4 linked regions of the Homo sapiens genome follow. The protein of the gene in region 2 interacts with the protein of the main gene of each other region in a pairwise test. Each region holds a gene or a part of one and is shown on either strand. Other genes may lie near its edges.

The links.
Region 1: the proteins of WBP1L (region 2) and ABHD16A interact in binary tests that used the Homo sapiens proteins (3 or more experiments, as listed by UniProt).
Region 3: the proteins of WBP1L (region 2) and EPN2 interact in binary tests that used the Homo sapiens proteins (3 or more experiments, as listed by UniProt).
Region 4: the proteins of WBP1L (region 2) and GSN interact in binary tests that used the Homo sapiens proteins (3 or more experiments, as listed by UniProt).

The regions. Positions count from the first base shown.
Region 1 is NC_000006.12:31,686,441-31,693,333, forward strand, and holds the end of ABHD16A (phosphatidylserine lipase ABHD16A), read right to left. Parts: intron 6,710-6,893; coding exon 6,587-6,709; intron 5,479-6,586; coding exon 5,364-5,478; intron 5,241-5,363; coding exon 5,139-5,240; intron 4,877-5,138; exon of another isoform or gene 4,318-4,876; intron 4,163-4,317; coding exon 4,099-4,162; intron 3,688-4,098; coding exon 3,638-3,687; intron 3,527-3,637; exon of another isoform or gene 3,265-3,526; coding exon 3,141-3,264; intron 2,680-3,140; coding exon 2,575-2,679; intron 2,347-2,574; coding exon 2,283-2,346; intron 1,866-2,282; coding exon 1,809-1,865; intron 1,664-1,808; coding exon 1,601-1,663; intron 1,461-1,600; coding exon 1,384-1,460; intron 1,301-1,383; coding exon 1,202-1,300; intron 1,105-1,201; coding exon 1,058-1,104; intron 856-1,057; coding exon 772-855; 3' UTR 515-771; downstream 1-514. UniProt on the Homo sapiens protein: Phosphatidylserine (PS) lipase that mediates the hydrolysis of phosphatidylserine to generate lysophosphatidylserine (LPS). LPS constitutes a class of signaling lipids that regulates immunological and neurological processes.
Region 2 is NC_000010.11:102,739,128-102,746,970, reverse strand, and holds the start of WBP1L (WW domain binding protein 1-like isoform 1 precursor), read right to left. Parts: upstream 3,024-7,843; 5' UTR 2,918-3,023; coding exon 2,828-2,917; intron 1-2,827.
Region 3 is NC_000017.11:19,282,350-19,289,372, forward strand, and holds part of EPN2 (epsin-2), read left to right. Parts: intron 1-600; 5' UTR 601-770; coding exon 771-1,365; intron 1,366-3,270; coding exon 3,271-3,441; intron 3,442-7,023. UniProt on the Homo sapiens protein: Plays a role in the formation of clathrin-coated invaginations and endocytosis.
Region 4 is NC_000009.12:121,313,148-121,320,170, reverse strand, and holds part of GSN (gelsolin), read right to left. Parts: intron 6,238-7,023; coding exon 6,148-6,237; intron 3,086-6,147; coding exon 2,953-3,085; intron 1,766-2,952; coding exon 1,677-1,765; intron 1,507-1,676; coding exon 1,291-1,506; intron 1-1,290. UniProt on the Homo sapiens protein: Calcium-regulated, actin-modulating protein that binds to the plus (or barbed) ends of actin monomers or filaments, preventing monomer exchange (end-blocking or capping).

The sequences.
Region 1 (6,893 bases), on a different chromosome or scaffold from region 2:
GATGACATGGCAAGGTGGGTGTGCAGGGTTTGCTGCATAAGACGTGGGGAGCAGGCCCTTCCTCACTCTTCACCAAGATAACAAGAGGTGAGCAATGAAAATTGGGGGTACTGCTAGTAACACCATGCAGGTTGAACCTGGAAACCAGCAGAAGCACTGGGTAGGTGAAATCGGATCCTAGAAAGCTCATGAGCCGTAAGCAGGAGGGGGCAACCATGGGCTCCTGGGGTGGTTGTATGCAGGAAGAACTGAAGAAGGAGGCGGGAGGGGCCAGGGAGGCTGCACAGTTGTGATAACAGTAGGCACATCAGGGACCGGGGAGGTTTGGGGACCTGCTGCCTGAGGAAAGCTCAGGTTAGGGGCTGAAGGCCTAGGGGGACACAGAGATGGGAAGGGTTAGATTAGCTAGATTGTCTAGAGTTAGGGTTTCCCAAAGCCCAGCTCTTTGGGGCCTCTGCTCTCCCCACTACCTGCCCCTGGCTCCCTGGACACTTGAGAAGTTATACAATTAGCCTGATAGTAGAAAAAATACCTTTTTATTAATTATTAGGAATAATCCATTCATGTAATGCAGGATGTATGTTGGAGAAGGTTAAGTACAGCCACATGAATGAGGGGAAACGTGCAAGAGGAACAGTGGTGAGAAGGGGGATGGTCCCCCACTTTCCACAAACTATAAACAGCAACATGAACACAGAGAATCACAAATAAGAGGGTCTTTCCTCATGTCTCCTCTCACCCCATTCTTCCATAATGAGTCCCAGTTGGTCCCTAGAGGTGCCAGGGCATCTGGAAGTTCTGGGCTGGGAGTGGGGTGCAGTGAGTGGCCTCAAAGTTGTGCAGATGCTTCCGAGCCTGAGGAAAGGAGGTGGGACAGGTGGGGTACAGAGCACTGTTGGGAGGGGCAGCCACTGGACTCCCTCCCCACCCTCCACTTCCGCATCCACCACCCACTCTACAAAAGCTGCCACTTCCAATGCTTATAGGGTATCCCCAGTCCCCCTATGTGAGCCCTGGCCATTCAAGAACCCTTCCCACTTCCCACTCCTTAGCTCACCAGAAACAAAGCCAGCTGCCGCCGTCCATCTGCACTCATGTCCTCCCCTGCAGAGAGGAGGCGCTCAAAATAGGCCACACATCTGGGTATTCATCCCCTTCCTAGGCCCTTCCCACCCTCTCTCCTGCCCCAGGAGCTCCTTACCCACGCTCCAGGGGAAGTCGGGCCCGTGTTCTGCCTGGTAGGAGCGGAGGACAGACAGACACCAGTCCTCTTCCACCTCCCATCGGCTATAAATTGAGGCTGGTCAGGGAGAGAGATGACAGCCAGTCAGCAACCTGACCTTGCTGGGCCCCCGCCCCAAGCCTCACTGGATCCCTTCTCACCTTCCTCCAGCTGTGAGGAGGCCTCCAACCACTGCCTCACCACTCGAAGACCCTCCTCTGCCATCACCCGGGGATACCTACGGAGGAAGTGCCAGGACAGGTCAGGGCTGATTTTTTTTCATTCACCATCCCTGAACCTTCCTCCCTCCTTCCCTGTGCTGGTATCAGTATCTGTGTGTGTACACTGCCCCCAGCGCGCACACACCCTGGCTCTCACCGATGCTGCAGGAGCTTCAGCAGGAGGTCATTGCCTCGGTTGGACATGATGTCCTCAGGAACCCTGGGGGTGAGAAGAATGTACCCTGGAGGGGCTGGAGGTTAGGAGGAAGGGTCTAGATACCCAGGTTTCTGGTGGGCAGAGGTAGAAGGGACAAGTTCCTGGCCATCTCTGGGGTTCCTGAGGGCCGAGATTCCCACGCACTCACGTGGTGGTGATGATCTCATCCTTGGTTCTCCGGATCAGCAGTACAGGACCCTGGTATCTTCAGAGAACAGAGCAGTGGGAAGGGAGAGCTCAGAGGGAGACGGGTGACAACTGGCCCACCCCTATCCCTGCACTGGTAGCATTCTTACCCTCCCCTTGCTATAGCACAGCCCTTGACCTAGCCCTTCACTCAGGGGTGAGAGGGGATTATTTAAGGGGCATGGTTCAGTCTGGCCCTGCTGGGAGACCCCTGCCGTGCCAGGCCTTAACCCTTTGGTTGCCAGATCCTGAGGTGGTCCAGAGTCCCAGGGGACCTGGGAGGGGTTAGGCCAGTTGAGGTGGTGGCAGGGTCACTCAGGATGTGAGCCAGTGGCCTTTTACCAACTTGCACTTTAGTACTAGTTTCAGGGTTTGAGCGCCCAGCAGAGCTGTATGGGGGGCAGGTGTTCAATGCCGGACGCTGGCCGGCCCTCACCTGCACAGCTGCTCCGCGTTGTTTAGATTGAGATGCTGCCTCACGGTCCTGGTCACCAGGCCCCCTAGAGTGGGATAAAGGTGAAGGGATGGCAGAGACAAAGCCCTTGCCCAACATAAAGGTCCTCACTATTCACGGAGAAAGAAAACTGAGGCCCCCAGACAAAGGAGTCCTCCTGCTTCCAACAATGGGGCGACTTACTCCCCACCCAAGAAAAGGGAGCCATCTCAGAACAGTTCCCAGTTCCAGCCCACCCCTTCCCAGGAAGGGCAGGCCTGGGAGCTGCACTCACTCCAGCTGTCTGGCATGACCTTCAAGGCCAAGGGCACCAGGTCATCAAAGGAGGCATCCAGGATCATGGCACTAACATCTGGGTAGGACATGGCTGCCCACGTGGCTGGTACCAGGGCAGGGAAGAAGAGTAAGAACTGAGAAAGGCTCCTTTCTCCCCACCACCCATGCTCTCATCCCACTGACCCTATAGGCCAACCCCATTCCCCCTATGTTATCCCTTGTTTTTTTCTTAACCTACTTCACTTGGTTAGGGAACTATCTGGAGAGGATGGGGATAGAACACTGGAGATAGTGCACTGAAGATAATGGGCAGGAAACATTCACTTTCCCTGATCTCCCCACCCAGGACCTGGGTCTGCTTTTCCTTTTAATGACTGGGCACAAGAGGGGAAGGAAAGGTGAAGTGTATGCAAATAGGATAGCTTCTTCCAGGCCCACTCAGAGATTCTACTTCCTCTCTCTTCTTCCTTGAGCCTCCACCCCACCCCATTTCCCCACCTCTCCCGGGTGGGGCTGGGTGGTCATGAATGTGTCTACAGTGGGGGATGGGAGGGAGGCTGGTACCAGTGAAGCCGCCGATGGACCAGGCGTAGATGATGATGTCCTGGGGCTGGAAGCCTAGGCGGTGGATGGCAAACTGGACCACCACATCCATGGCATTAGCCTCATTCTGCGGGAATGGCACCCCCTGCAGGAGAAAGGGCAAAGTCAGGAGTGTGTCAGCACCAAAGGCCAGCTCACCTGTCCCTCCCAACGTGGACCCCTCCTGCAGCCACCTATGACAGGCAGAGAAGGTGTAGAAGGAAGGGATGGTAGGAGAGGTTGTTCTCTCCAGAAGACGGATGTGTACAATGAGATCTACCTCCTCCTCTCCTGCTAGCCCCGCACTGTGGGGATGGGGGCATGGCTCCCAATGCTGCCTTCACAACCTCCTAGACCCCAGCCCTCAGGTGAGTGGGACGCCTTCAAGAAATCCACAGCCCCTCTCCTCCCTCCAATGGCTGACCAGAGGGAAACAGACATAATTCAGGAAAAGGAAGGGATTCCTGAGATGGTCTCACCGTGCTTCCAGCAAAGCCTGGATGATTCCAGCCCAGGACTGAATATCCAGCTGTAACACAGGGGGAGGAGGGACTGAGACCTTGTGGCCCACAGCCCTTTCTCCATCCCTGGGGGAAGGAAGAGCAGAAGTACCCCCCAGCTTAGATGCAAATAACTCCAAGCCTTCCCAGAAATAGGAGATGACACCAGAGGTTCTGAGGCAGCACAGGGAGCAGCATGTGATTGTGTGGGGTGTGTGGTGGGGGAATGGAACAGAATGAAAAGCATAATAGCTAGGGACACAGGCCAGGGGAGGGATGTAAGGTTATCAAAGCAAATGGCGAGTGGACTTTTCCCTAAAGCTGAGAGACTCAAAACCTCACCCAGAGAAAGCAGAGGCCAGGGGAGGTCAGGTCAGTGTGGGAGGCAGGGACATTCCCTTTCAAAGGGCGGAGATAAGGAGGCTGAGTCACCGTCCTACCTTCCAGGGGCGTGGAGACGCAGCCCACCTCATAAAACCCAGCATTCCCCTCACAGCAGATCACCTAGGAAGGAGGCAGGAAGGAAGGGCTGGGGGGCCAAGTTGGGACTGAAAAACTCCCTTTGGGCAGGGAGGGCAGCCCATGAAGAGCTTTGCAGGGAAGAGGAAAGGGCAGGTTTCTGTTTTCTCCAAGGGGAATGGAAGCTTCTCATTCCACAGGGTCCATAAGAGGAGAAGCAAAGGGATTACAAATACTCCTCAGAGGCTGACCTGCTCGACCACCCAGCCATGTCTTTTCCTTGGAAGATTACCAGCTGGATCTCTTTCAGGAAGGGGACTATGGAGATGTTTTTCCTTTCTCGTTTTCGGGTCTGTTATCTTCTGTGACCATTGCTATTGTGTGGTATGCTGATTGCTCTCCCTATCCCTCTCTGAGCTCCAGTCTTATGGTCAGATAAACTGTAATGCCATGGCGCCCCAAGCTGAAACCCACGAATGGTGGGATTTGCATGAACTCTCATAACAGATGGGCAGAGCCAGGACTAGAACCCAGCTCCCTAGACTCCTGGCTTAGCGCTCTTTCCACGGCTGCTTCATGGAGGTAGGAGACTTTGAGGCCAGGCTGCCTGGGTCCAAATACCAGCTCTACCACTTACTGTGAGGTCCAGGAAAGGTTTTCTGTGCCCCAGTTTCATCTCCTGTAAAATGGGCTAATATAAGCAGTACCTATCTCACGGGATTCTTTTGAGAATTAAATATATATGCTTCATATATATATGAGAATTAAATATATATAAGTGTGAAGTGCTGTCAAAGTGGTAACTATTAATATTAGTTTCTCGTCCTTGAACGTCTCTCCTACTTCATCTGTTTCTCTATCACAGGGTTTCACTACATCACAAGGTCTTTAGCGTGGAGCTAGGACATGAGATTATCCCCAGTAGTGGTTCCTTCAGGGAGGTGCTATAGCATTGGGGTCCCCAGACCTCTACTGCCTTCCTCACACTCACCCCACCTCTGGGCTCTCTGCTCCCTCTTACCAGCTTCTGTCCCTGGGGCTCAGCTGTCCCCCGCCGGTCCACAAACATGGTGTCAATCTCATTGCCATCACAGGCCAGCAGCTTTGCCCGGCGCCCATTACACTGAGTACGGAAGACGCAATGGCCAAGATGCAAGGGTCAGGAGGCCACATCACAGGGGTGGGGCGGGGTGGGTGGGGGTGAGAGGGGAGGGCTTTAGGGGATGTGCGGGCAGGGAAGCCTCACCTCTTCCACCAGTCGGGCCTGGCCCTGCAGCAGCACAGGCATGAGGGCCTTCTGCAGCAGGTACACAGAGCCTGGATACAGCATCCGGCGCCCTAGGGTGTGCGCCACCAGGTAGCTGTGGGGAACACAGGTTAACAAACCCCAACCCTGTTGAGGCCTGGGGACTGTGCTGGGGACCATCCCAGCCCTAGCACTCACAGACTGTAAGGCCTGCTTTACCCCTGACCTTCACAGCTTTACTTTCCTCTTTCAAGCCTTAATGAAATATGTACCAGGCTAGTGTTTTGCAAACTTTTCTTACTGCAACCTTTGTAAGATAAACATTTTATATTGTGGCTCAGTGCACACATATCCTGTATGTACAGAATTCTGAGAGTTTTATGATGTAACTGTCTATACATAATAAGTAAATGCAAAGTTATCATCAGATTATGATTCTGTTAAAATATAAGTACAACATATTAAAGGTCCCCAAATAAATAATGCTTTAAAAAATGATGGTTATAATTCAAAACCTCAAATATGGCTTGCCTCCCTGACTAATTAGCACACTGTCAACAACCAACCACTAAGTCCACCCTGTTCCTTGGTATTCTAGAAGCTGCCTCCTAACTCCCAGCAAAAGAAAATTCCCAGTGTCTGTTCCACTATAAGATATAGGTGGTTATTTCCGTTCCTTCTGACATCATCAGTACCCACGACTGAGCTTTATTTGGGATTTACCATGTGCTCTCAAGCACCCAGGCAAGGCAGGAGCCCTTCAGAACATGTTACCTTACTTAATCTCCTCAGCAACCTTGCAGGGCAGGTTCATCACAGGTGCAGACACTGAGGCACACAGGGGCCCGGAGCCAAGGTGGAATAACAACAGGGCAGAGGGGCCACGATGGGTACACAGATGCTACCAGAGCCTGCCCTAGCTACAAGTGTGTGTCCTCCCCACCCCCACCCCACCCCCACTGCTCCTTTTCAGCCTCACTGAAGGAGCTTTTGTTCATATCCCAGTTCTTTACTTACTACATTTGAGACTCCAGACCTCTCTGAGCCTCTTTTCTTCAAACATAAATATGGATAAAAATGACTTTGCCATAAATGATCTACACAAACCATACAGCACTAGGCCCAATGAGTGACAGCTATTTTACAATGGAGCGCCCACTCCCAGAGCACTCCTGAAATGGCCCCTCCACCCCAGTGGGCCTCTCCTCGCTGCTGTTTCCCACCTGGTGATCTGACAAGGCAGCTTCTTAACCCGGTTGAGGAGGGTGTCTGCTGTCCCCCGGTGCAGGGGCTCTGGGCGAAGCAGGGCCACACCCCGGCGGGAAGGGCCCCCTCGAGACTCCTTCCTGAGGAAGGGAAAGATGCAGGGAAGGATAGGGTCAGGAGCAGCAAGCTGGATGTCTGAGGTCTGGAGAACAGTGGGGTCTAGGAACGACATAATGGCATTGGAAGGCAGGCACTGTGACCTGAGAGGGCATGGAGGTGGGAGGGCAGAGCAGAGATTTTCTGGAATGGTTCTAAGGGGAGAGA
Region 2 (7,843 bases):
TCCAGGGCCTGCCTGCATAAACAAGAAATGGCTGTTTCAGTGCAGAGCTGGTAACAGGGAAAGCAAGTTGCCTAGTATCATTTATTTCTGATGGTAAATGTGTATGTAAAAAAAAGATTGTGCATGTAAAAAAAAGATTGTATTGTAAGTAGATCAATTTTGTGGGAGAAATGCAATAAGGTACCAATACCATTATTCGATACAGAATGAGTATAGTAAGTCCTCCTGAATTCAAAGTTAGCTGGACTTCATTGTTGAATTAAGGACCATGGGTACTTAAAGTATGCCCTGTGCCAAAATGGCCTTGGGATTTTTTTTTCCTTACTGATTTGTACAAGCAACCCCTTCCCCCACCCCCCCCAAAAAAACCCAAAAAAATACACTGACTAAATTGCGGTGGATTCAGAGTTAATAATTATATAGTAACTTGCATTCCGAAGGTTAAAATTCAAAACAGAAATCTCACTATAGATATCTAGTACTCCCAGACAGAAAGAGACAGGAGTATAAGGTGGGGGATGGAATTGTATAGGGAGCGTCAGGAGTGAGGGTATGTGGGGGCTGGTTAGGAAGAGGGCCACTGCTCATTACGAAAACTTTCCCTTCTCTGCAGGAATTGTAACCGTGTAACAGCTGTTGGTCAGTGATAGCATTCATCCAAATGGAACAAAGTACAAAAGACACCTGTCCCCAAAATTAAGTATTAGAAGTGCCACAGATATAAGAAAGCAGCCTGTGGTTTGCAAACTGCAATTAGAATATAACATTAACAATCCCCTTCCACATGTTCACAACACCTCCCAGGCTCCACGACCTGGTAGGAACCTCCACTTTCCATCATCCCCGTTGCTGAAAAAGTGGATCTAGTTCCTATCTTTGACCAGCCCATCTCCAAAGGCTCTGACATTCCTAAACCAAACCTCTACCGATGTTATTTATTGGTTACTGGGGACAGCCTTTTCGAGATACTTACAGAAACAGACATGTGCAAAGGAAAAGTAAATTCTGTATTTACTATATTCTATATTTTGTTGTCAATACCTATACTTAACTTTACTGGTCCTGAGGGCTATAACATTTCTAGTAAACAAAAAAAATATATTTCTTCTGCCAGTTTATGATTTCCACTGGAAAAACAACCCCAACAAAGGCTAAAACAGAAGGGTCCCAACCCTCGAAAAGGGAATACACTGGGCTAGAAAATGAGCTACATTCCTTTCACATGGTATTTCTAGTATACACAAACATATCCTGAGGAAAAATTAGACACTTCAATGCATAAATAAATTGTGGTTTACAGATAACAGAATGTTACTTGGTCATGAACAGGAATGAAGTACTAGTACATGCTACGATGTGGATGGGCCTTATAAACATTACGCTAAGTGAAAGGAGCCAGGCACAAAGACCACATATTGTAGGATCCCGTTTATATAAAATATCCAGAATAGATAAATCCATAGAGACTGAAAGCAGACGGGTGGTTGCCAGGGGCTGGGGGAAAAGGGAGACAGAGAGTAACTGCTTAGTAGGGACGAGGTTTTCTATTGGGGTGATGAAAATGTTTTGGAACTAGATAGAGGTGGTAGTTGCACAACATTGTAAGTGTACTAAATGCCACTGAATTGTTCACTTTAAAATGGTTTTTGTCATGTGAATTTCAACTTATTTTTTAATCAGTATTTTAAAATAGAGGATAATGGGCAAAACAAGATGTATTTGTGAAAAGGCAGCCCTAAAACTCCTAGGGAAAAGATAAGTATTTTTGCTGGCACTCAGTTTCTGCTCTTGTTCACAACACAAGTTCAAGCGCTAAGTTGTATAAACTTTGCCACTACGCTATGCGTCTATGTGTGTATGCCTTTCTGAAAAAACGGGGAAAAGAACAGAAAGTGAAGAAAAAAGAATCATAAAGCTTTGCCACATGCAAGGAAGGAGGGGTGATTGCCCCCACTGCACCCCACCCAACTTGGCACCAGGAGTAACGCTCCCATTAGGGTTTTGAAATGCCAGCTGGAGCTGGAATCAGCACAAGCAAGCTTCTCTGCCTGGATAAAGAGCAAGCCACCCAGCAAGAAAAGCTAGGGTGCTCCATTTGCTGCCCATATTGGCATCAGAACCACCCTCTGGTCAAAAGCCCTGAGCTGGCTCAGATCAGCATCCGTGACTTGCTCTCCCAGGCCAGCCAGCCTAACAGCAAGAGCTTGTTACAGCTCAAGTGTGCTCCTCCTCCTGAGGGGTTCCACTCTGTTTCATCCCACCTGCCTTCTGAGAGTCCTCCCTCCAACCAAGTGCGCCATGGCTTACAGATTTTAAAATGGGGCCAAGTCTCTCCCAGGAACATAGTAATTTTTTTTAAACGTACTAAGATGCCCTCGGAACTTTCCCCAGTCCATCCTTAAAGAAATATCCTCAGGATCCCCTCCCTCACAGGCCAACTCAATAGCCTGTGTACCCCTACACACACAGACGTACATACTGCATTACTGCCTGGGACACCTGCTCCACAGAGGGACACGAATAAGGCCCACATCCTCAGCTTGGCACCGCTATCCAGCCACAGTCACCCCAGCCCACCTAACCAACCTGCCGTCTCAAACGCCCCTCACTCGCTTGGCATCATGCCTCTGCCACCTCCTTGACACCAAAACTGTCACAGGTGTCCCTCAGCTAAATACCGACGCCCCTTTAGATCCTGTCCACGCCAGGCATAGACGCCCCTCTCGGGACCCCTCAACTCTTGGCAACAACACTCCTTCAGACCCCTCCAGCCAGGCCTCGACGACCCCCAGGACCCAACATGGCCCAGACGCCCCCTCCCCCTTACCTGCGGGGGTTCAGCCCTGGCTGACAAGGGGCTGGGCAGCGCCTGGAGGAGCAGGAGCGCCATGCCACCCAGGAGCCTTCTCCTCTCCATCCCCCTCCTGCTCCTGCTCCTCCGCCACGGCGCCGCCACCTCCCTCCTCCTCCTCCCTCTCCTCCTCTACCCTCTTCTTCCTTCTTCCCTTCTTTTCCTGTTTGACGCTCCCCTCCCGCTTCCGGCTCTGCTCCACCCCGCCCCGCGCAAAACACCCTCCCAGACACGCGAGAGACTCTCCAGTTCCAGCGCTTCATTGGCCTTTGCCCTTTGTCCATTGATCAATGTAGCTGTCGATCAAATATAAGTCCCGCCTTCCCCTGAAGACGAAGCGATGCAGCCAATAAAAAGTAGGAGGAAGCCGGACCATCTTGAATGCTGCGAAGAAGTGTAAAATTCGTCCCAACCCGCAGAGAGTGGCGGAAGCAGCTTCATAAGGGGGCGGGGCCACCCAGGTGGATGGAAAAGTCTATTTCTGATGTAGCCATCTTGAGTGTGGCGGAAGTACTAGTTTTCCAGTTTTCCACATCAAAAAAAGAAAAAAGGTTTAATGTTTCTCAAGGGTGTTGGAAAATAAATTATTCCTGAAAGGTAACCAGGCGCTCCTGAAGAGGAAAACAATTGCAATGTAAAAATATTTTAATGTCTTTTGTCTTGAAGCACAGCACTATTACCAGGATGCCTCTCTTGGTCTCAACTGCCCAAATAGCAGCTTAGGTCCGTTTGAATTCCCTAGAAGATAGTACCTTTATCTGAGGCATAGTGCTTCGTCACCCCAAGTTCGACGGACAAAATTCTGGTTCTACTTCACAAATTGCTCTGAAATCCATCATCCATTGCTTCAATCCATGTTCTTCTAGCTAAATACAAATGGCTTCCCTGCTGCCCTGCAAGTTGACAATTCTTCCTCTCAAATTTCCGCCACACACTACAACCATACCACATTAAACCAAATATTACTATATCATGGCCTCTTCTTTTAAATACTTCATCTACCTACAGAATAGAGAGTCCAAACTTCCCAACACGGTCCTCTCTGTGACTTCGTCCCTGTCTACTTCTCTTTATCTCACCTCTCACCACTACATTTTCCCACACATTCCACTCACACTGACCATTGAAGAGATGCCCAGTAACTTCATTTACATATTACAGATACAGTTCCCTGCTTACAAACTCCTAGCCCCATCTCCTTGCTGCTTCTTCTGGATTCTTGTAACACTTATATCTGCGTGCCTGGTTTGCAGTTTTTTGTACAGCATACCAGGTCTTTCTTCTTCTTCTTTTAAAGCCTATAATATCCTGTACAAGGCTCAACCAGAGCTTGATCAATGTTGGTAAAATAGCCAGGTGTGGTGGCTCATGCTTATAATCCTAGCCCTTTGGGAGGCTGAGGCAGGTAGATCCCTTGAGCTCAGGAGTTTGAAACCAGCCTGGGCAACATGGAGAGAACCCTGTCTCTACAAAAATAAAAAAACTAAATTAGCCAAATTAGCCAAGCATGGTGGTGCACACTTGTAGTCCCAGCTACTTGGGAGGCTGAGGTGGGACAATCACCAGAGCTAGGGAGATTGAAGCTGCAATGAGCCTTGATTGTGCCACTGTACTCCAGCCTGGGCAACAGAGTGAGACCCTGTCTCAAAAAAAAAAAAAGGCCAGGTGCGGTGGCTCCTGCCTGTAATCCCAGCACTTTGGGAGGCCGAGGTGGGCGGATCACATGGTCAGGAGTTCGAGCCTGGCCAACATTGTGAAACCCAATCTCTACTAAAAATACAAAAAATTAGCCAGGCGTGGTGGTGCATGCCTGTAGTCCCAGCTACTCAGGAGGCTAAAGCAGAAGAATCGCTTGAACCTGGGAGGCAGAGGTTGCAGTGAGCCAAGACTGTGCCACTGCACTCCACCCTAGGTGACAGAGTGAGACTCTGTCTCAAAAAAAAAAGAAAAAAAAAAGTTGGTAAAATAAATGGACAAAGGAAGACCCATGGCAAATAACACAGTTGACTTTAGCAGTCAATTTCCTCTCAAAAACCTGTCAAAGTGTTTTACAGCCTGGCCCAGTCTAGCCCACATCTGAGCCCAGAGGAAGTTGTTCTTGGCTTAAGTGTTGGAAAAATGGGAAACAGGTAAGAGTTAAGTCAGTCTTCCCTCAGCTTAAGAAAGTCCATAGTTCTGCCTTTATCTTGATCCTGCTTTTCCAAGTACTATAAAAAGTGACACGTATTTTTGCCAATCTCTCGTTTCTTAGAAATTTATCCATTCCACAAGTCAAGCTCCTTAGAGGAGAAGTAAAAATTGAGTACTAGGGAAGGACCAAATTATTTTCATGGCACAAGGTCTCTAATTCCTGGCCTCAAAAAGTTGTAAGTCTTCCACATAAAGGCTAGGTTTCATCATCACTAAGAAACCCCAGGTGGGATGTAGTGGCTCACGCCTGTAATCCCAACACTTTGGGAGGCCAAGGCATGAGGATTGCTTGAGGTCAGGGGTTCAAGACCAACCTGGGAAACATAGTGAGGCCCTCTGTCTACAAAAAATTTAAAAATTAGCTGGGCATGGTGGCATGTACCTGTAGTCAGGAAACCTTTAGGATTCTGGTTCTAGCCAGGATTGAGGAAAAGACCTTGGATCAAAAGGAAGCTTCTATACCTCTTCTTCTTCCCTTCCTCCTCCTCTCCCGAGCAATGGAACCTTTTACCCATGCTATTCTAGCCGAACTCAGGAAAAAGAAGCTACTCGGGAGGCTAAGGCAGGAGGATCACTTGAGTCCAGGAGGCTGAGGAAGCAATGAGTCATGATCATACCATTGCACTCCAGCCTGGGCAAGAAAGTGATACCCTCTTTCTCTCAATAAATAAGAAACCCCAATTCAGTTTGGCAAACACAGGGGATTTTGCCCCAACTTCCCTTTCTCCTTTTACCTGAAAGCTCAAGCTGAGCTATTGGATAGGACAGTCTGGATTAGCACTTCCCACACCAAGGCCTTTTAGTAACCTTAACTGCCTCTTATTCAACATCCCACAGCAGCCAACTCAAAGAAGAGAGATGTTACAAAATGAGACTGAGATGCAGTTTGAGTGACCACTTTTTAGAATGTCCCTGAACATTATAGCCACCACATACCTTCCAGACATTTCCAAAAGAGCAGTTGTCTATAAGAGAACAGGAAATCCAAGAGGCTTGAGGAGCTGAGAAGGAAGGGGAAACATTGTATGTTCTGAAAGAACATCAGTCAGGAGTTGTTTCCAAGCTCTACTGGCTCTGGTAATGTTTCCCTTTTCCTATTTGCTTTTGGAAATAAAGCCAGGTCTCCTGTCCTAAAGAAGCTAGCTCAAAGACAGACTTTTCTGTTCAGACACCAGCTAAAATCAAATTGCATATGCTACAACATGGATGAACCTTGAAAACATTATCCTAAGGAAAGAAACCAGACACAGAGGGCCACATACTGCATTACTCCACTTACATGAAATGTTCAGAATACGCAAATCTCTAAAGACAGGAAGTGAATTGTGAGGCGCTGGCAGGTAGGGAGAATGTGGAGTGACTGCCAATGGGTATGGGGTTTCTTTTGGGGCTAAGAAAAATGTTCTGAGACCAGATGCAGTGGCTCATGTGTGTAATTCCAACACTTTGGAAGGCTGAGGGAGGAGGATCACTTGAGGCCATGAGTTCGAGACCAGCCTGGGGCAACATAGTGAGACCTCATCAAAAAAATCAAATTAGCCTGTGGTCCCAGCTACCCCAGAGGCTGAGGCAGGAGGATTACTTGAGCTCAGGAGGTTGAGGCTGCAATGAGCAGTGATTGCACTACTGCACTCCAACCAGGGTAACAGAGTGAGATCCTGTCTCAAAATAATTCTGGAATTAGTGGTGATGCTTGTACAACTTTGTGACTACATTAAAAACCACTGAATTGTACACTTTAAAAGGACTAAGTTTATGGTATGTGAGTTATATTTTAACTTTTTTAAACGGGGAGAAAAATCAAGTTGCAGTGAATTCCTTGGCCTCGGGGAGGAGGCCCTTTCCCCTTAGAGCAGTGCTCCTCCACGTATGGTGCCAAGACCAACAGAATCAGCATCACCGGGCAATGACTAGAAATGCACGTTCTCAGGCTCCAGCCCAGAGTGACAGAATCTGGCAATGGATCCTGCAATCTGTGCTTTAACAAGCCTGCCAGCTAATTCTGATGTGTTTTCTTTTTTTTTTTTGAGACGGAGTCGCCCAGGTTGGAGTGCAGTGGCGCAATCTTGGCTCACCACAACCTCCACCTCCCAGGTTCAAGTGATTCTCCAGTCTCAGCCCCCCGAGTAGCTGGGATTACAGGTGTATGCCACCACACCCAGCAAATTTTTTGTATTTTTAGTAGAGATCGGGTTTCACCATGTTGATCAGGCTGGTCTCGAACTCCTGACCTCAGGTGATCCACCTGCCTCGGCCTCCCAAAGTGTGGGGATTACAGGCATGAGCCACTGCGCCCGGTTGATGCATGTGCTTAAGAACCACTGCTCCAGGGCAGGGGAAACTTTTTGTGTCAAGGATCAGACAGTAAATATTTTAGGCTTTGTATGCCACATAGGTAGGGTCTCTGTCATTCCTGTTGTTCCCTTTTACAACTCTTTAAAAATGTAAAAACATTCTTAGCTTCCAATTGCACAAAAACAGGTGGCAGGTGGATTTGGCCCCTTGAGCCATAGCTTGCCAACTCTTGCTCTAGGGCAACACAGCTCCCATTCTGGGAGATCTGGAGCTTCCTGTGGAGACAGGTGGATTTCCCCTTTAATGAGGGAAATAAACAACAGCCTCCAGGCATCAGACAAGTTCCCCTTATATAGTAGTTGTGATACCTTCTGACATGCCAAGGCCAAAGTAAGGCCAGATCCTGCTTTCCATTCAGGCTTCATTAACTTAGTTTACAGTTTGTGTGTATGTGTGCCTGTGTGCTCTTTCAACAAATTTATTCAATTCACAGTGATATCTGTTGGA
Region 3 (7,023 bases), on a different chromosome or scaffold from region 2:
TTCTGGACATTCGGAAACACAGTGGACCAAAGCAGTTTTGAAGGTATTGACAGGCATTTTTGAGTTAAGATAGACCTGAAATTAGTCTCTTTCTTGTCCTCATGTGTATTTTTTTTTATTTAAATAAACTTTAAAAAAATAGAGATGGGGGTATTGCTGTTTTGACCAGGCTGGCCTCAAGTAATCCTCCCATTTCAGCTTCGCAAAGTGCTGGGATTACAGGTGTGAGCCACCATATCTGGTCTCACATGTAATTTTAAATCTGCCAAGATCAGCTTCCCCCAGTGTTTCCGATTCTTCCACAGCTGGCTTTTGCCAGGCAGTGAAAAGACAACCCATAAAATAGCCATTCCAGTGGAAGTGTTTTGAAAATAGAGCAATAGTCATGATGTTTACTTCTTTTCTCCTAAAGGCTTAAACTTGAGTGTAAGTTTTATTCATTGTTGACTGGTGATATTGATTTTATCTTGGGTTCGTCCTAAGGAGGCTGGGTATGTCCACTCAGCTCCCCAGTTTTACCCAGTACCTGCTGCTGGACCACAGTCTCCCACCCTCACAGGGGGCTTACGTCGCAGTGGAATGGGTTTTCTCTTTCTCTAGGTCATGGCTTCCAGCTTTTCGAATCTGAGGCTCCAAAGGAGGAAATGACCATTCAGGGATCTTACTCCAGCTTGATTACGGAGACTGAACCTTCATAGGGTGCGCACTTACCAAGGACAGGAAGGTTTCTCTGTTTGAAGGGCTTTAAACTTATAACAAAGAAAATAAAAATGACGACTTCGTCTATCAGACGGCAGATGAAAAACATCGTGAACAATTACTCAGAGGCAGAAATCAAAGTCCGGGAAGCCACCTCCAATGACCCGTGGGGCCCGTCCAGTTCTCTGATGACCGAGATTGCCGACCTGACCTACAACGTGGTGGCCTTCTCGGAGATCATGAGCATGGTGTGGAAGCGGCTGAATGACCATGGCAAGAACTGGCGGCATGTGTACAAGGCGCTGACCCTGCTGGACTACCTCATCAAGACAGGCTCCGAACGTGTGGCCCAGCAGTGCCGGGAGAACATCTTCGCCATCCAGACCCTGAAGGACTTCCAGTACATTGACCGAGATGGCAAGGACCAGGGCATCAATGTGCGTGAGAAGTCAAAGCAACTGGTGGCTCTCCTCAAGGACGAGGAACGGTTGAAGGCTGAGAGGGCCCAGGCTCTCAAAACCAAAGAGCGCATGGCCCAGGTTGCCACTGGCATGGGCAGCAACCAGATCACCTTTGGGCGAGGCTCCAGCCAGCCCAACCTCTCCACCAGCCACTCGGAGCAGGAGTATGGCAAGGCCGGGGGCTCCCCGGCCTCCTACCATGGCTGTGAGTAATGGAAGTGCTTCTCACCCTTTGCCAGAGCAGCAGCAATGGGTGACAGGCAGGGTGGGTGTCTCTGGGCTTAGGGAGTGGTGGCCACTGCAGAGCTCGAACCTGTCCTCAGTACCCAGCTTTTGGTGGCCCAGGCAAATTGTCCTTGGTCTGGATTGAGTTTTGGTTATAAAGGGACTTTTAGTCCCTTGGCTGCTCTGGTTCAGGGATCTCTAACGCCCTTTGCTGCTCTGGGCCTCATTCTGTACATCTGGGCAGACGGTGGGCAGAGGCAGGTCTTTTCTGCTTCCTTGTCAGAATGGGTCTGGCAGCAAAGGAGTTGTCCTGCTGCACATACAATGGGGAGTTGACTCTGGTAGCCAGGAGGAAACAAATGCTCTTTCTTGATAATCTTGTTTCTTTAATCTCATATTAAGTGTTTTTCTGCTGACTGAGCTTCAGGTCTCTTGAATGGCTCAGTATTATTCTACTTCAGCAAAAAAACTTGTACAGGTTGCTAGTGTGAACAAGGCCTCCCTGCCAAACATGCAAATGAGAGTTGCTAGTGATCTGGTTGCATGGCTGGGTCTGCATTGAGTTCTGGTTTTGCATGTTGGATTAATTTGGGTCTTTGCCTTATGGTCAGAAGAGGTTTCAGGGAACAGAGTGGAGTTCAGGGCCTGATGGAAGCTGGTCTCTGTGAGTCACATTGGCATCCTGGCTGTTCATTGGAAGTGGTCCCCCAACAGGTGTTTCTCCATTTTCACAGTGCTATTCCAGCCACAGTGTGGACCCCACACTCAGAGAGACAGGTGGCCCTAGTGGCCTTTGGGGGACAGGGTGAGGATGGAGGTGGGGATTGTAGAAATTATATCTTCTGGCTGCTAAAACAAAAGTGCAGATCCCTAGTAACACTATGTCAGCATAGCAGAAAACTTCTTTTTAAAGGAAGTTGTCTGTAGTTTGACAGACCTCAGTCAACCCTTACTTAGTCAGTGTTCTGTTACCAGACCATTTACTAACATTTCCTGCTTTTGCAGGTTTCGATTTGACATTGTACCGCCACCACTAGCATTTTGAGAAATGTGTTAAATGAGAGATTTGCATATTAAAGTCAGATTTCCTGCTTCTAGGAATTCTGAATTATTACCGAGCTTGGAGCAGGTTAACATATTCTTGTCCCATATGTAGTTGTCATTTTTCTTCTTAGTTTGAACTGTTTTGCTTAAGCAAAGGTTGTGACCTTGGTTAAACCACTTGAAAACAATTTAACCTTAATCTCCAGAAGCCTCAATGCAGGGTTAAATTGCACCAAAACAAATGAAGATTGCCCTTTAAGAAGTGAAATTGTTTTATTTCTCTCAAGGATCCTCTTACCAACCCCCAGAGAGGCTCTCTTTGGATTGAGTTGGTCCCAACCTGCCTTGACTTCCTCTGTCCCTGTGACTGTGGCTGTGGCTTTGATGCAGGCCAAGGGGAGCTGCCATTCTCTTTATGTGCTTTTCATGGTCATTATTCTCAAGAAGCCAGAGGATGCTAAGCAAGGAGCTGAAACAGCTTCATGTTCCATGAACAATTTGTGGAACTTTGCAGATGCAGGGGTTGGAACAGTGGGGATGCAGGAGCCTGGTTTGATCCACCCCTCCTCCTCATACCGAGTCCAGGGCCTGTAGCCATAGGTCCTGCTGGGCTAAATGATACTGCTGCAGTTCCAGCTGTGATGTTTTTGGTTCCCTCAGACCTTACGCTTGAGCTGCATGTTCAGGGTCAGAATGTGGTCAGTGGGCTTTTCACAGCTTCCACCGCAGTGGGCTGCGGGGTTGACCCCGAGTGGCCTTGGCCCGTACCTCCTGCAGGGGCTGCTGCGCACCCTCTAATGGCGTGTCTCTCTGTGTGTGTGTGTGTGTCCCTGCCCCACAGCGCCTGAGGCCTCGCTGTGCCCCCAGCACCGCACAGGGGCCCCGCTGGGTCAGAGTGAGGAGCTGCAGCCACTGAGCCAGCGCCACCCCTTCCTGCCGCACCTGGGGCTGGCCTCCCGCCCAAATGGCGACTGGTCCCAGCCCTGCCTCACTTGTGACCGCGCAGCCCGAGGTGGGACGGCGGTTTGCTTTTTTCCTTACTAGAAATGCTGGGCAGCTTGCTGGGGGTGTGCTTGCCATGCCAGTACAGCCAACTCTCTCCCTGTCTCCTCTGGGCCTGGGGGTTTGGCCTCCAGCAGGCCCAGGAGCCCTTTCTTCCTCTCTCCTGGGAGCTTGTGGCCTGGTCGTGCTCCGCTTCCAGGATCACATGTCACTTGCTAGAAGTTCTGTCAAAGGTTTAGCAGGGGAGCTGTTCTTTGGGTAAGGCATGGGGTGATGGCCCATGCTCTCCCCATGCTCCCATTCCCTGACAAACTGGAGGGGGCTCTGCCACCTATCAGGCCCACCCATGGTGGTGGGTCAGACAACTTGGCTTGTTGGACCGGAAATGTGTGATTTAAACCTCACAACACCAGACAAATATAAGATCCTCAGTGATGGTCATTGGAAGCCATTATCCTTAATGCAGTAATGTATGCCTTGCCCTGAATAAAATGGGATTTTTTTTTTGCTTCCCAATTAACTGCTGTTCTTCCTGAAATCCCTGTTACCATGGAAAACAGAGAGTTAGCTGTACTGTCAATTCTAGGTCACGGTGTTTGAAGATACCTAATTCAATGGGTAACTAAAAATGGGGCTTCTCTTTCTACTAATTAATAATGTATCCTGATCAGAGCCTTACAACTGTAGCAGGTTAAACTGAAAACAGATTTTCACTGTTTCCTACAAGAAAATGCTCTCAGTCTACCATTGGTCCCAAGTGGGTTCTCTGCTACAGGGAAGAAAGGTGTCTGTTCTCTTCTACTCTTCTTACAAGAAGGGGCACGACAGAGAGCTTTTGTGCGACTTCCCTGATAAGGTGACCAGCCTTTATTCAGCCCTGGAAACAGTTACAGTTCATTCATGCCTCATTAATATTACAGCTTGTTTGACTTGGGTATTTGTGTAATAACTATATTTAACTCTAGGATATTTTCCTTCATGTCCCTGTTTTCCCCTAACAGTTTATACAGGATTTTGGCTTCTTCTAAACTGACATTAGAAAACGTAAGGAAGGCCAGCTCTGCACTGTAAAGAATGTAAATGATAAAAGCATTCGTTAAAGGGTCACCCAGAGGCATTGGAGTTACATGCCCATTTCACCCCCCCAGATAGTCAGAGGCTGCTGTTCTCAGCAGGTCCCGCGGAACTCTCCATGGAGTTCCCTTTTTGTTTTTCCCATGTTCTACCCATTTGGTAACTGACAAGGTCTGTTTTGAGCCTTGGTGGCCAATTTTGTGTTACCCTGGCCCTCTAGCTCTCCCGCTGGCAAACTGGCTTTCCTGGGACGTTTGCATGTTAAATACAGCCTGGCAGGCCTGCAGGCTGGCCATCTTCCCCCACTGCGGCTGTCTTTGGCCCTGCCTCTGCACCTTCGCCTGTGCCATTCCGTTCTCTCTGCTTGGATATCGCTCCCACCACCTGCCCCCTGTTCCCCCAACCTGGCAAGTTGCTTAAGGTATCCACCCCGTGTGGATTTATGTTGTCCTTCAGCCCTGATAGGAGTTGAAGATAAAAATGAGTATTTTTTTCTTTGAAGATTTCTCATGCCCCAGATGAGTTTTGAGCAAACAAGTGTTATATGGATTGCATTTCATCCTTTAACTGTTGGGTGTGGCATCCTCTCCACATCTCACTCCCTCCCCGTCAGAGGGTAGGGGGCTGTCGGAGTCCAGGGCAAAGATTCTGGCCATGTTTCTTCTCTGTTCTTTCTTGATGCTTCACAAAGGGTTGAGTATAAGGTAAGTGCTTAATCTATGCACACCAGTGGATTTGTTTGGAGCACACCTTCTTGGAAATCAGCAGTGGGAAGGTCAGAATGATGCCGGCCATTCAGAAAACTGTCAGGTGAGATGCAGGCTGTGATTCAGGAGAGATGTTTGTGAGGGGTGCATTTGGGACTGCAGACCCCACAGAGGCAGAGGAGGCAGACTGCTCAGAAGCCCTCTTCACATGAGAGCAGCCACAGCCGGGAAGGCCTCTTGTGTGACTGGCGATAATCATGAGGATGTCTGAGGAGAGCTTTCTTTCATGTGCCATATGTCATCTCATCCTCCCTGTGCCCCTCCCTCTCTCTCACCTCCCACATAGATCTGTAGATCTGACCTTGGAAGTCTCTTGAATTGTCCATCTTGTTCCATGGCCTCAATTCAGTGCCAGCCTTCTGACCAATTTCCTGCTGTCATTATCTCCCAGTCTCACCTACCCTCCATCTTCATAAAGGATGCCCTGGTCCTGAGTCTCAGCCCCTTTAGATGCCAGGCCCTGCAGGGCCATCCCAGAGCCTTTGACGTTGCAGACCTCAGTTGCTTCCACCAGCTGTGTCCCCTGCCCTCAGTCTGGGGGTCCTCCTGTTCCGGCGGAAGCATTCCAGACCTTCCCAGGCCTGCTGACGTCTGCCTGCAGGCACAGCTCTGGGCTTTCCTTTTGAAGCCTGGTCTACCTGCCCTCTGCTCTGTATTTATTGAGTTCCCATGGGGCACCAGGCACTGAGCACAGAACAGAGCCCCTTGCCCTCGTGGAGCTTATATGGTAATGGGAAAGAAAAACACAATATAAATTATTCAGCATGTTATGTAATGAGCGCTCTGGAAAACAGCAAAACAAAAACAGTCTTGCTTGAGTGTCTTTGGGGAGGTAAGAGAGGGTGGCTTGCAGTATGAATGGATCAAGGATTGAAGGAGTGTGAGGGTGAGCCTTGTGGAGGTTGGAAAGAGCCTTCCAGGCAGAAGGGCAGCTGTGCAAAGGCCCTGAGGTGGGAGTGTGCTCAGGGTGTTTGAGAAAAGGCAGCCAGTGAGGTGGCGATGAGTGACGGAGCATGGCCAGTATGTGGGGGTGGAGCGTGGCAGAGGTGGGCCTGGAGGAGGTGTGGGGCAGGGCCTCTCAACTCTGTCTGGTTGGGAGCATTCCTTGAATTCCTAGTCCATCCAGACGGGTCCTTTTGTGTCCATGTTTAGATGTTGTGCCGATGTCATTGCTAGGAGCTTTTGAAACACTTTCACTGTGCTTACCTTGCAGACCATGCACTCAGTGGCCCGGTGCTGGGCCTTCTGGGTTTATGTCAGAAATTTCTTTGACTTTCACTCACAGTGAGATGGGGGAAGATGAGGGTTAGGAGGATCCCTTGGGGTGTGTATGGGCAAGGTGGGAGCAGGGAGCCAGGTCAGGAGGCCACTGTCCCCATCCAGGTGGGAGATGGTGGGGGTCTGGACCTGGCAGGGCTGCAGAAATCTGGGCAGTAGCCAGGTTCTGGGTATGTTTTTTTTTTTTTTTTTTTTTTTTTTTTGAGACAGAATCTTGCACTGTCACCCAGGCTGGAGTGCAGTGGCACGATCTCCGCTTACTGCAAGCTCTGCCTCCCGGGTTCACGCCATTCTCCTGCCTCAGCCTCCCAAGTAGCTGGGACTACAGGCGCCCGCCACCACGCCCGGCTAATTTTTTGTATTTTTAGTAGAGATGAGGTTTCATCATGTTAGCCAGGATGGTCTTGATCTCCTGACCCCGTGATCCGCCCACCTTGGCCTCCCAAAGTGCTGGGATTACAGGTGTGAGCCAC
Region 4 (7,023 bases), on a different chromosome or scaffold from region 2:
ATCTCTGGATTTTGAACATTCTTGAAGGTGATGGAGTGGGATGAAACCCCACTTTACAAGTGAGAAAGTGAAGCTCAAAGAGGTTATGTAACTTGCCCAAAGTCTCACAGTCAGGCTGCCAGGGGTCTTACCACACCGCCCCACCCGAAATATTTTCATTGCATTCTCCCTAGCCACTGAAGCAACAAATGAATGCTAGCACCAAACCAAAAACAATAATATATAAAAATGAACACTTTGTTATTCCTATCATTAGGAACGGAGTCAAGTTTGCCTGAGGCGGATTCTACCTCCTAAACACCTCTGAACCCCACACCCCTCTTCCCCTTCTCCACTGTGACCTTCTTAGTCTCAAGGTCATCATCTTTCCCCTACAGTATTAGAACAAGCTCCTTATAAGCTCTCTACCTTCATTTTCCTGCCTCCAATCCATTTTCTTAGTTTTCTTTTTATTTTTCTTTTATTTATTTTTTAACTGATTTTTTTCTTCTAATGATATCCTGGAGTCATATTCCAACCCATTTTCACAGTGAGTTTCTAAAGCAGGTGGCCGGGCGCAGTGGCTCATGCCTGTAATTCCAACACTTTGGGGGGCCGAGGCAGGAGGATTGCTTGAGCCCAGGAGTTTGAAATTAGCCCGGGCAACATAGCGAGACCCTGTCTCTATTAAAAAAAAAAAAAAAGATAAAGCATAAATCTGAGCCTGTTGCATGTCTGATTTAATAAAAAGAAAAACCCCTCACTAGCACCCACTGGTTAGAGGATCAAGTCTACACCCTTGAAATTGGCATTCAAGGCCCCTCCCTGGGGATGCCATCAGCACTAGCCCCCTGGGATAGCTCCCTCCTTTCCGAACATAGCGAGTCCCTCCTGGAATGCCCATCACTCTCCGCTCTTCCTCTCCGGCAGCAAAGCTCTACTCCTCCTCTGAGACCCAACCCAAAGGTTCCCATCTCTGTGCAGGCTGCCCTGACCAACCACCCCCACTGCTTCCTGTGTCTGCACAATCCCCTGTGCTCCCTCCCATCTTCCACTGATCACACAGGTCTGTGGCTATGGTCAACTCCCCTCCCAGACCAGGCACTCCTCGGGGCAAGGTGGGGCCAAGACACTTGGCTCAGGGCCTGATACACAGGGTGCATTGGCTGTAAAAACTAAGTAACACCAAAGAATCTCAGCTACCAAAGTTGTGCAAACCTCAGAGAGAAACCTCCTTGGGGAAGCAAGAGGCAGTGCATGGGGAAAGTGAGGGAGGGGCCTGGACACACCCACCCCACGCCCTAAACGTACCTGTTTCTGGCCTGTGCCATCGTCATCCATGCCGTGCTGGGCGGCCATGGCAGTGGAGGTGTGCAGGGTGGCGGCGTCGAAGGGCACCCGCTCCACGTTGGCGATATGGCTGGAAAGGTAGGACAAGCCCAGGCCATCTGTCTGGTCTGGGTCCCGCCAGTTCTTGAAGAACTGCTTGAACAGTGGGGTCTCACCGCCCTCAGGAAGGACCGAGACCTGGGGAGGGGAGGCAGAGGAGCAGGATGTGGCTGGGCTGCCCAGCAGGGGTCCCCAGGGGAGCCTCAGATACCCCATCCACACTGAGGGTGGGACACCCGCCCTACTCCAGCCCATCCCCTCCAAACAGGACCCACCCCTTCCCATCCTACCTGGCCTCCAAGACTCACCTGAGTCTGCTTGGGGTAGTCCATCTTGGTGATGAAGTCAGAGGCTGTTTTGAGGGCAGCCTTCCTCTCCTCCGTGTTTGCCTGCTTGCCTGTTGGCAGCCAGAGGAAGTGATGGAGGGTTAGAGGCCCGGGATCCTGCTGCATCCTGACCTTTAACAGTCCAGGAGAAGGAGCTGCCAAACTTCCCTCCCTACTCTTCTTAGACTGTGGACAGCCAAGGCCAGAGACCCCCAGAGCCGACCACTCACTAGAGCTCCTGGTGTCCAGCCTGGGGCTGGCCAGTGACACCAATCACAACACTACTGTGGTCCATTTAGTGAGCATGTATTTTGTGCTTAGAACTATGCATAGATTATTTAATTCACAGAATAGTCTTAAGTAATAAAAAAAGTTGTTATCTTTTTCTGAGTATCTATAAGGAAGCTAGGGTCTTAGAGAGATTAAATTACTTGACCTAGGTTACTCAGTGAGTGAGAAGCTGCCACCCTGAGGGCATTCCCGTGCCAAGGAGCTCCTGGCCAGCCAGTGCTGGGCCTCAGTCCCAGCCTTCTCACTGCCAAGGCCAAGGTCCAGATCAGCTGGCCCAGGGCCCAGGGGGCCTAGAGAGTAATAATCATAATAGTGTCTCTCTCTCTCTCTTTCTCCCCACCGTCTCCCTTTCTCTCTGTCCTCCTACTGCCTCCCTCTCCTCTGTCCTCTTCCCCAAGATGAGCCTTAGAGAATCAGGGGAGGATATTGATGGGTCCTCTCAGAACATCTCAGGGCCTCTGGGAAACATCTGGGCCAATGGTTTCCAAGAGAATTCCCACAAGATAGTACCGAAAGAGTTTATGAACTTCTAGCTTAGCATTTCCCAAACCAGATCATCTTCATGAAAAGCCCCCCTGTAAATGAACAAGTTAAAAGTCCTACAGTAAACAAACTCGAACATTTTAAAATCCACTGTTGCCCATGAATTTATCTGACCATACAGTTAGATGTTTTCTACATAATTTCTACAGGATGCCAATTAGCCTCTCAGAGAACTGACGTTATAATGCACTTGGGAAACACCCATTTTAGCCCAGATCAGGAATCTGAGGCCCAGAAAGGGTAAGTAAAGTGCCCAAGATCACACAGTATGTCAAATGCAAAACCAAGGCCTCAGCCCAAGACTTCTGATTTCCATTGCACCAGGCACACTCCACACTCCCCGGGAGCTGAGTTCCTGGGAGCTGCAGAACATCCCATCCAAGATCCTACAGGCCAGTTGGGACCCTTTCCCTGTCTCCAGTACCTTTCCAGACAAAGATTTTCCCATCTTTGCCGTGGTCCAGGATGAAGCAGTCCTCTGACTTCAGGGCCCCCTGGGCGAAGGGGTTCTCATCAGCCACGAGGGAGACGGACATGGTCCCTGCACCATTGGAGACCTGAGGGGACGAAGCAGAAGGAACCAGCACATGAGTGTCTGTGGCCGCCCAGCCCTGAGACTTCCACCATCTTGCCCCACCCCCTGTCCCAAATGGCCCTGTAGAGTAACACCTGGGCTTCCTCTCGCACACATTTAGAGGTTCTTTTTCGTTTTCTGCTTTGTCAGAACCACATCTGCTGACCTACACGCAGGGGTAACACAAACTGCACATGGGAAGGGAGGGCGGGATAAAATTTGGGGAATTGGGTGCAGAGGGGAACTGCATAGTTTGCTGAAAATGTATTCAACTTTACTATTCAAAAAAAAGAGAAGAGGCCGGTTACAGTGTCGCACACCTTTAATCCCAGCGCTCTGGGAGGCCCAGGTGGGTGGATGGCTTGAGCCCAGGAGTTCAAGACCAGCCTGGGCAACATGGCAAGATCCCATCTCTACAAAAAATACAAAAAGTAGCAAGGTGTGGTGGCGCTTGCTTGTGGCCCCAGCTACTTGGGAGGCTGAAGTGGGAGGATCACTTGAGCCCAGGATGTCGGGGCTATAGTGAGCTATGATTGCGTCACTACACTCCAGCCTGGGTAACAGAGCCAGACTCTGTCTCAAAAATAAATAAGTAAATAAAAGAGAAGAAAAGAAAAAGAAAAGTAAAAAGAGCTAAATGCAATCTGGTATCCTGGATTGGAACCTAGAATAAAAAACTGGGGAAATCTGGCTAAAGTCTATAGTTTAGTTAATGGTACTGAAGCAATGTTAATTTCTTAGTTTTGACAAATGTACCTGGTTATGCTAAGATGCTAAGGAGAAGCTGAGTGAATGGTATATAGGAACTCTTTGTACTATCTTTACAATTTTTCTGTAAACTTAAAAATTATTCTAAAATAAAAAGTTCAACCAAGCTCAAAAAAAAGTTCTATCTTAAGAGTCAAAATTCAAAAGTTTAACAATATCCAGTTGGCAAGGCTCTGGGTAAACAGGCATTTAAGATCCCTGATGACAGTAATTTGGGAGCTGTTCCAGAGTACAGTTGACTGTGAGGTAGCAGTCCTTTAAATAATAATTATTCTACATGAATTGAGTACTTACTACTCTGTGCCAGTCACTGTTCTAAGCAATTTCTATAACTTGTATAATTATAGAACCCCTTTAATCCTTGCATATGATAGTTCTGTTACTATCCCTGTCTCATTCACAAGGAAACCAAGGCACAGAGTGGTTAAGGAACTTGCACAGCTAGAAATAGCTGACCTGGAATTCAAACACAGGTAGTCTGACTCCTGACTCCAAAACCAGTATTTTCTTTTTTTATTTTATTTATTATTATTATTTTTGAGACGGAGTCTCACTGTTGTCGCCCAGGCTGGAGTGCAATGGCACTATCTCAGCTCACTGCAACCTCCGCCTCCCGGGTTCAAGTGATTCTCCTCCCTTAGGAGGAGAGCTAGGATTAGAGGCACCCGCCACCACGCCTGGCTAATATTTTGTATTTTTAGTAGAGACAGTGTTTCACCATGTTAGCCAGGCTGGTCTCGAACTCCTGACCTCAGGTGATCCGCCTACCTCGGCCTCTCAAAGTGCTGGGATTACAGGGGTGAGCCACCATGCCTGGCCCAGAACCAGTATTTTCAACTACTGACTCATTCTTCGGCCTGTGACCAGCAGTTCCTTGTCTAGGAACTTGCCCTAGTGCTATGCTGTACTTAGCACAAGTGCACCAAGAGGGACTGTCTGCAACTGGAAAAGGTGGAACATCCTAATGTCCATCAATCAGGATTTGCTTAAATTCTTACATTCATAAAATAAAATACTATACAGCTGTTATAAAGGGTCGTGTTGAGATTTATTATAGAAAGATATTCCCGACCATGTTGAGTGGAAAAAAGACCACACAACAGCATGAATAGTTTGGATCCAGTTACACAAAATAGAAATGGCCGGGAGCGTTGGCTCAGGTCTGTAATCCCAGCACTTTGGGAGGCTGAGGTGGGCAGATCACATGAGCCCAGGAGTTTGAGACCAGCCTGGGCAACATGGCAAAACCTCGTCTCTACAAAAAATACAAAAGTTAGCTGGGCGTGGTGGCGTACATCTGTAGTCCCAGCCACTTAGGAGGCTGAGGCAAGAGATCGCTTGAGCCCGGTAGGCAGAGGTTGCAGTGAGCTGTGATTGTGCCATTGTACTGCAGCCTGGGTGACAGAGCAAGACCCTATCTCAAAATAAAATAATAAGATGGAAATGGAAAAGTAACTAGGCACAGAAAGCTGTGGCTGGACAAAGATGTGTTCTCTCATGAGGAGGAGAGGCTGATTTTTTAACTGGGTATTGTCATTTTTGTAATTAAAACATATTTTAAAAGTAATACTGGTTTTTTAAACCAGTGAAATTGCATGGACTTTTATTTTCTTTTTATATTTTGAATACTTTTTTTTCTTACAATAAACATGTATTACTTCATAATCAGAAAAAAAATCGATAATGTAGTAGTTTTTCTTTGGCAGTGGTGAAAATCGACATCCCCTTTTTGTTGTTTTACTGAAAATACTTGGGGCACAACGTAAGTGTGATTGAGCTTTCTCCCAGAGCTCAGCCAAGAGAGTTCCCTAGCTGAAGCTAAGCCTGAATTCAGTTGTGAAAATCACAAGAAAGAAATCATAAATAAAGTCATTAACTATAACCCACACCCCCAACCTCCCCACATACACACCATTTCTGTAGTATTTCCCCAAGTATTTTCTAAGCTGTTTTCACATCCATTTTATCTGTGGACTCCCAGAAATCCTACAAAGTCGACCATTCTGCTCTTCTTCCCACTTTACAGACTAGGACACTGAGACTCAGAGAGACCTCATGTATGAGCGTGACACAGATATGTACGGAGTTGATCGCATGCTCTTAGTGCAGGAAAGCAAAGGAAGTACACGAGCATCCACTGGAGACGTGAGAAAGCTGAGGCCCCCCTCCAAAGGGGTGCTTTGCTCAAGGTCCCATAGCAGTGGAGTGGGGAAGACCAAGTCTTCCACCTCCCTGTCCTGACCCCATGCCCAGGCAGACAGTGCATCTGGTGCTCACCTTGTAGAGCTTGGCCAGCTTGCGGTTGGCCGCATCCTCCTTGGCGGTGTCCTCGGTACCTGCAGGCAGAGCCGGCTTGGGGCCCAGCACCTGTAGGAGATAGAGAGATGGAGAGGAAGGGTGGCTGTGAGGGAGGGGCCAGGCTCCTGAGATAGCTCCCAGGCAGGCAAGGATCACAAGGACATCCACTGTGACCCTCCCCATGGAGTCTGACCTCCTCCAGACACATCCTGCATCTGCTCACATGTCCAGATCTGTCCATCAGAGGTCCCTTCCACCTTGTCTCCCTGACTCAGAAACTCCAGGAGAACACTCCTGCTCCTCTGCCTCCAGACAGCGCTTCAGATATTTCGCCTACCGGCTAATTGTGATAACTATAGCTACTGAACACCTTCTACCGCCTACCTTTAAAAGATGTCACTGCATCCTCGCAGCCAGGCCAGGAGGCACAGATTATCACTCTCATTTTACAGAAGAGGAATCTGAGGTCCAGAAAGATGAAGTCACCTACTCACACAGCTATTAGGTGGCTAAGCCAGAATCTGAACCTCCATCCCTGTGGCTTCAGAGCCTATTTTCACTCCCACTGTCCCTCCCAAGCCATGGTTGGTGTCCAGGTCCCTTCCCATAATAATAATCACCATTCTGCTCTCTCCAAAAGCTGGAATTGGATGCCCCCAGAGAAGCAGGAACCAAGTGACATGGAGCAGAGCTCATGGTCTTCTCCTTTTCCTAGTGAATCTTGCCTCTATTGATACGTCCTCAACGCACAATGGCTGGCAATCCCACCATGTGACTAAATGGGCCAAAAACTACCAGAAATAGTCAGAAGAGAAAAGAGGGGATTGGGGCTCAGTGGTCTCTTTCTGACCTTAT